Linked DNA regions of Homo sapiens: region 2 is linked to region 1. The links come from fine-mapping of genetic effects on plasma protein levels. A gene starts in region 1. The other region holds a variant in brackets. All regions are shown on one strand. Distances are from middle to middle.

What was found. PIP is the posterior inclusion probability: the model's chance that the variant is causal. The UK Biobank Pharma Proteomics Project read protein levels with antibody pairs (Olink). The fine-mapping took linkage between variants from a reference panel, not from the people measured, so its PIPs are less certain.
Region 2: its variant is fine-mapped to the plasma level of the POF1B protein (UK Biobank, PIP 0.96). The variant lies in the coding sequence of POF1B. If it changes the protein, the assay may bind it differently, which can mimic a change of level.

The regions. Positions count from the first base shown.
Region 1 is chrX:85,377,997-85,380,923 of GRCh38, forward strand. POF1B (POF1B actin binding protein) reads right to left here and starts at 1,669. Exons shown (of 17, transcript NM_024921.4): 1 at 1,643-1,669; 2 at 1,177-1,499. The coding sequence starts at 1,458.
Region 2 is chrX:85,306,500-85,309,426 of GRCh38, forward strand. It overlaps POF1B (POF1B actin binding protein), which reads right to left. Exons shown (of 17, transcript NM_024921.4): 10 at 1,625-1,717; 11 at 664-777. Among named protein-coding and RNA genes, the nearest start is that of ZNF711, 64 kb to the left of the region's middle. The variant T/A (reference allele first, on the strand shown) is at 1,630.

The DNA.
Region 1 (2,927 bases):
CAATAAAACAAAGGTGGCATTCATTTTGTTCTGCATTAGCATCTCAATATGAATATTGGAGTGCACATTTGCATTATTTTTATCACTAATGCAAACTGGTATTTATGACCTTTATATTTTTCTTCTCCTTGACCTCAGTATAAGTGGAGTTTTTCTCAACCAGTTGAGAAATGTTACTTTATATTCTACTCAAATTTGTGGGTTTTGGAAAAATAATATGTATTACTCCTGATTGGTAATAATAATGTAACATAGCATCATATCCCAATGACTGCTTTTTGAGATTTTTGTATCTTAAAAACATAATTTCAGTTTGGACAGAATTTTCCAGAAAGCTTAAAACATGCAAATTTAATGTAAAAGGAGTCAGAGGATAAAATACACATAAAGCTGTTAATTTTATACAGTCTTGCAGGGTTACCTTGTATTTATTGGGAAGGTTATTAACACAGGTATTGGTGCTAAGAATAACTCTTAAGAAACAAACGTATTTCATTTTATGGGATGTCTTAGAGTTCCATCTTTTGTAGCTTTCATGTAACAATTGCTTACATCTTGCCTTCCTCAATCCTATATCAACTCTTCCAGTACTCTTTCTACAAGTATTCCATAAATTATTCACCTAGGCTGTACGATAAAAAGTGTGTCATTCTTGGAAGATGAAACACATATGACAATTCAGACATCTGCACCTCTCACTTATCCTGGAGCAGCTATACTATTTGCTGAGCACAAATAATTGCTTATCACTCAGACATGCCACAGTACCTGTATCACCATATTTGATACCAAAAAAAACCTGTTTGCTTCTGATATGAAATTAATCAGTAGGAACTTGTTCTAATAAAAATCTACTGTACTCAAGTTGAGAACTGCTTTGCAGTAGGGGCAAAGGGATTCCTTGGATCAGATCTTTCAGTCAGATCAAACAGAAAATGAGCCTTCCTATACTATGGTTAGATTATGAAAATCAGTGAAACCCGGAAACAAACAACCACAGACACTAGTAAGTGAAATAACAGCCAAGAGATGAATTTGGGTGACTATCCAAGGCATATATAACTGCAATCCACCAAAAGATATCCTGTGGAATAGAGGCAAAGAAGCAGAAAGGAAGAGAAATCAGGTTGAAGATTGCCTTTCTCCACTAGTCTGGCATAGCTTTCTTTGTTGTACCTGAGAATGGTCGCTCCAAACCAAATTTTGGTAGGAGGAGGTGGTTTTGAGAGGGGAGAGCACTTCCCGTGAGTTGAAGGGGTCCAAGGCCTGCACCACCTTGTTCATGGGCCCACTGTAGGTCCTCACTCGCTCATACACTACATTTTTTTCTGGAGGCTGCTGGGCTTGGCTTGACTGATGGTAGCAGTGGTAATGCTGGGGCTGGCACTGCAGCACCTCTGGGAGCTGCTGGGTTCCACAGCTGCTGCTGCTCGTCTCACTCCAATAGCTCGAGCTCATCTTCTTCCAGTGGTCAGCAAGGGACCTCCCAGATGTTCTACCTAAGGAACAAACAGAGAAATATAATGGAAAAAAAAGACAGGCAAGCAGGCAGTCAGGCAGGCAGACAGACACACGACACACGTGTGGAAACCGCTTATCAAAACCTCTGCCAATAGTGGTGCCGGGAAGAGAAGAAAGCTACCTGAGCAGCAGCAAGAGCAGGTCTGGCAGCTACAGAGGAAGCAGCAAAATATTTGAGCTCAAATGGAAAATGGAGCCACCCTGTGACATTGCTCCAGGAAATGGTACTGACACGCCCTTAGGGGCGGATTCACTTAGCAGGTTTACATGCCAGGAGAGGCCCTGCCTTGCCACGGAGATAGCTACAAGGCTGCCCAGCAGGTAAAGGAGTCTGTGAAGAGCAGAAATGTAGAATGTCAGGGATGAAGCCAGAGTTTCCAAGCACATGGGCTTAAAAATTCACAAAGACATGAAAATGCAAAAAACTTGCTAGAGAAAAAAAGTCACACATGTTATATGAAAGTGTCTTTTTATGGTTCTTAAGTTTAGCAAAGGTAGTTACCAGCATAAGTATTATTATTCCAGATTCCCAGACTAAAATAATGAGTATTAGTCTAGGAATACACCAATTTTCACAGATAAATTTGCATTCTTTGCAAAACCCATCTGATAATTGCAGTTAAGGAAGATTACTAAGGGGTCTCTTTCTAGTGACTCTGTCTAATATATGGACTTGTTTATCTTACTCAAAGCCTCGTATTCTTTTCTATCATTTGTTGAAGGAAATTTGTCTAAATGATTGAATTGCTGTATAGAAAGGTGGATGGTCAAGAAAAACCTAAAGATTCCACAAATGCTTTGCATTTTGGCATTCACATTTGTTGTTTTTCATTTATGCAAGGGAATTTCTCCTGCCCTTATATGTGCCCTAGGAAACACTGAGTTTGATTGACTTTTTAATATCTAGTTATTAAGGGAGCTGCAAGTCCTGAAAGATGCCTTAACTGACATAATGAGATTTAAATGTGTTTACAACTTACATTTATTACTACTTGAAATTTTGATCATAATGCCTACTTACCCTCAGATTTTGCTATGCAATATACTTCAGCACCACTTAAATCCAGAATACTCTCATTCAAAGTGACTTTAGTAAAAAGTATCTTCCTAATGTGTATATGTGCAATAGGACCTAGTATACTACCACCATTCTAGAGAGGAAGAGAATGTTATCCAGGGGGCTAGCAGCATTTTTTTTCTGCCCAGTGAACAAAGTGTTATGATTTACTATTCACTCTGTGTCAGGTACTGTTCAAGGGGTTTTATGTGGATTATAATTATTTCATCATTGAAGTGACTTTATGAGGTTTATAGGTGAGAAACTGAGGCACAGACATGGAGAGTTTGAAAAACTTTCCAAAGTTAAATAACCTGTAAATGGTGGGCCTGGCATTTTAACATATGGA
Region 2 (2,927 bases), 71 kb before region 1:
AGTGTTGCCTCTAGTCTCACTCATCTATTTTGTGAGAGAGGGAATCATGACTAGATGAATTTATAATGTCTCAATTTAACAATCAGACTCTTGCTACTCTGTGACAATACTGTACCCTGCTTTCTAGTAGGCACAGAAACGACCATATGCCTGATTATTTACATGACAACTAGTAACTGAGCAAGAATTTGGGACAGCCATAGGAGTAAAGATCAGGAAGAGGGTAATCCTTAGAGACTACTTACAATTTCCTAGGAATTCTCTCTGCTCAGACATCCAGAGAATTCATCTAGAGTTTTTTCAGTCATTTATTTATTGCACAAACATGTATTAAGGTCTACAACAGCTTTTCTCATTGACATGTTAGTACATTAAATAAATGCATGAACCTAGATTTTTAGTATTTCTACAATTCTGGTCACCCAACAAGACAAATAATTGTGTCCCATATGTACTTTATATCTAAAATAGATAAGATTATCTGTTTTTCTGAGAGGGCTTTCAGCCATTAGAAATACCCAAAGCCACTCAATTCTCATATGAACAAATTTTTCCATCATATTTAATTCTGTCTTGATTATATCTCATAACTCCAATGTGCCAGTAATTGTGCATATGAAAAGCTATCAATGTAGATTAACACCAATAAAAGCATCAGTTTACCTGCTGCTGGTGATTATTTGCTCTCACTGATGCCAAGAGTTCTTCGTACTCTTTTAATTGAGTGTCTTTGAATGATAAATCTTTCTCAAGTCTCATCTTGTCATTTTCCAGTGACTAGAAGCATAAATTATTTATTATGATTCAGAATTGCAAAAACTTAACAGTCACATAATACAAAGACTTGCTTACCTTGGAAGATTTAAATAAGCACTTGTTTCATTTGTACTTGCTTAATAAAGCAGAATTCTTAAAAGTTAAGAAAATACGGGATAGGAAATGATTGAAACTTCTAAAACCTTCATTGAAAGAGACATTTTGATGGACTAACTATACATGAAATGAAGCACAACCCTCTGAAATGTTTTAATGTTTTCCTCCAATCTACAAAGAGTCCTCGTTAATCCCAGCGAGTGGTAAATTTTTAAATTAGAGTCTAAATATGTTCATCATAACCCAGAAACAACAAAACTACTCCAAAGTCCTCAAGGCATTATTCAATGTGTGGAAAGCATTCTGAATGTATCTAGCTGATGGCACCAAGAACACCAATTAAAATAGAAAATGGAAAAAAATTAATTTTTTGGAGAAAAATGTTTTCAAGTTATTATATTTGAATGGAAATTCAGAGTATGCTTTATAATTATGAAAAAGGGGGAATTTACCTCCAATGAGTCAGATTATTTTAACTTTGCAGATGACTCTCTGGCTTTAAGCATTAAATTGCCTTAGTGGTAAACTAAATGATAAGTGCACATCCAACATTCTTTCATTTATACTTTGGATACCTCTTTTCTCCTCTCTCAATGCCAATTAACTGTTTGAAGAAAATAATTTAGCTTTGTCTGAATAAGCATAATATTGTGCTATATTAAATTTTAAAAACATATACTGGACATCTTTATTTCTGTATTAGGAAGCTAGTAACTAGAAAGGCTTTGGAAAAAATCAAAATAAATCTTACTGTCA[T/A]ATCATTTTGAAGATGTCCAAGCTCCTCCCGTATGTTGCTAAATGTGGACAGCACTAGTCGGAGTGACTTATCAGACATACCCCTCATCTGCAGGAAGAAAGGATTAATGGTTTAGTTTTATTAACATTTGAAAATAGGCAATATAAGTGAAAGTTTTTTTTTTCCTACTAGCAAACTTATTAATAATTTTACTTTGATATGGCAAATTAGAAAGGTGATATAAGGCATTTTGTCAATAGTGTGTTTAAGTAATCCAAATAATATTCCTGAAGATAGCATAGCTAGTATTTATAACAAATATTTATTATTTTTTCCATGATAAAGTATCATCTTTGTCACAAAGTAGAATTCTATCAGCAAAATTTAATTTTTACATTATTCTTTATTTAAAAGATTAGAAGAGATGAGACAGTCAATAATCAAATAATAAAATGAATCTCCCTAAGTGTATTGCCAACTGCCTGAATTTTGCCTGAGGTGAGAAGAATATAATTATAATTAAGTTTAACTTTAAAGTATAGAGCTATCTAAATATTTTTGGTTTTTTTTGTTTTGTTTTTGTTTTTTTACCAGAGTCTCACTCTGTCGCCTAGGCTGGAGTGTAGTGGCATGATCTCAGTTCACTGCAATCTCTGCCCCCTGGGTTCAAGCAATTCTTCCACCTCAGCCTCCCAAGTAGCTGGGACTACAGGTATGCACCAACACACCTGGTGAATTTTTGTATTTTGAGTAGAGAACGGATTTCACTGTGTTGGCCAGGCTGGTCTCGAACTCCTGACCTCAAGTGATCCACCAGCCTTGGCCTCCTAAAGTGCTGGGATTACAGGTGTGAGCCACTGCACCTGGCTTATCTCAAATTTTAAAGAGAGGGGAAACTCTTTTACTAGATTATTCTTATTTCTTTAAAGAAAAATGGTTTAAAAAACAGACAACTTCAGCTTCTGGGAAGATGGAGTAAAAATACTTTCCACAACCAATCAGACGTTGTTTAAGGTTTAACTTTGTAACTTCAGCCTCTGATTGGTCACTTTCTGCAACCAATCCGACTGATAACGGGCCACTACTTCATTTACATAGAGTGTACACCAAGTTACCAATGGGAAACCTCTAGAGGACATTTAAACCACATAAAATTATATAACTGTGCACTTGAGCCAATTGCTCAGCCCACTCCCACCCTGTGGAGTGTGCTTTCATTTTCAATAAATCTCTACTTTTGTTGCTTCACAAAAAAAAAAAAGAAAGAAAAAAGAAAAAAAATACTTTTCCCTAGCCTTCCTGTTAATTGCAGCTAAAA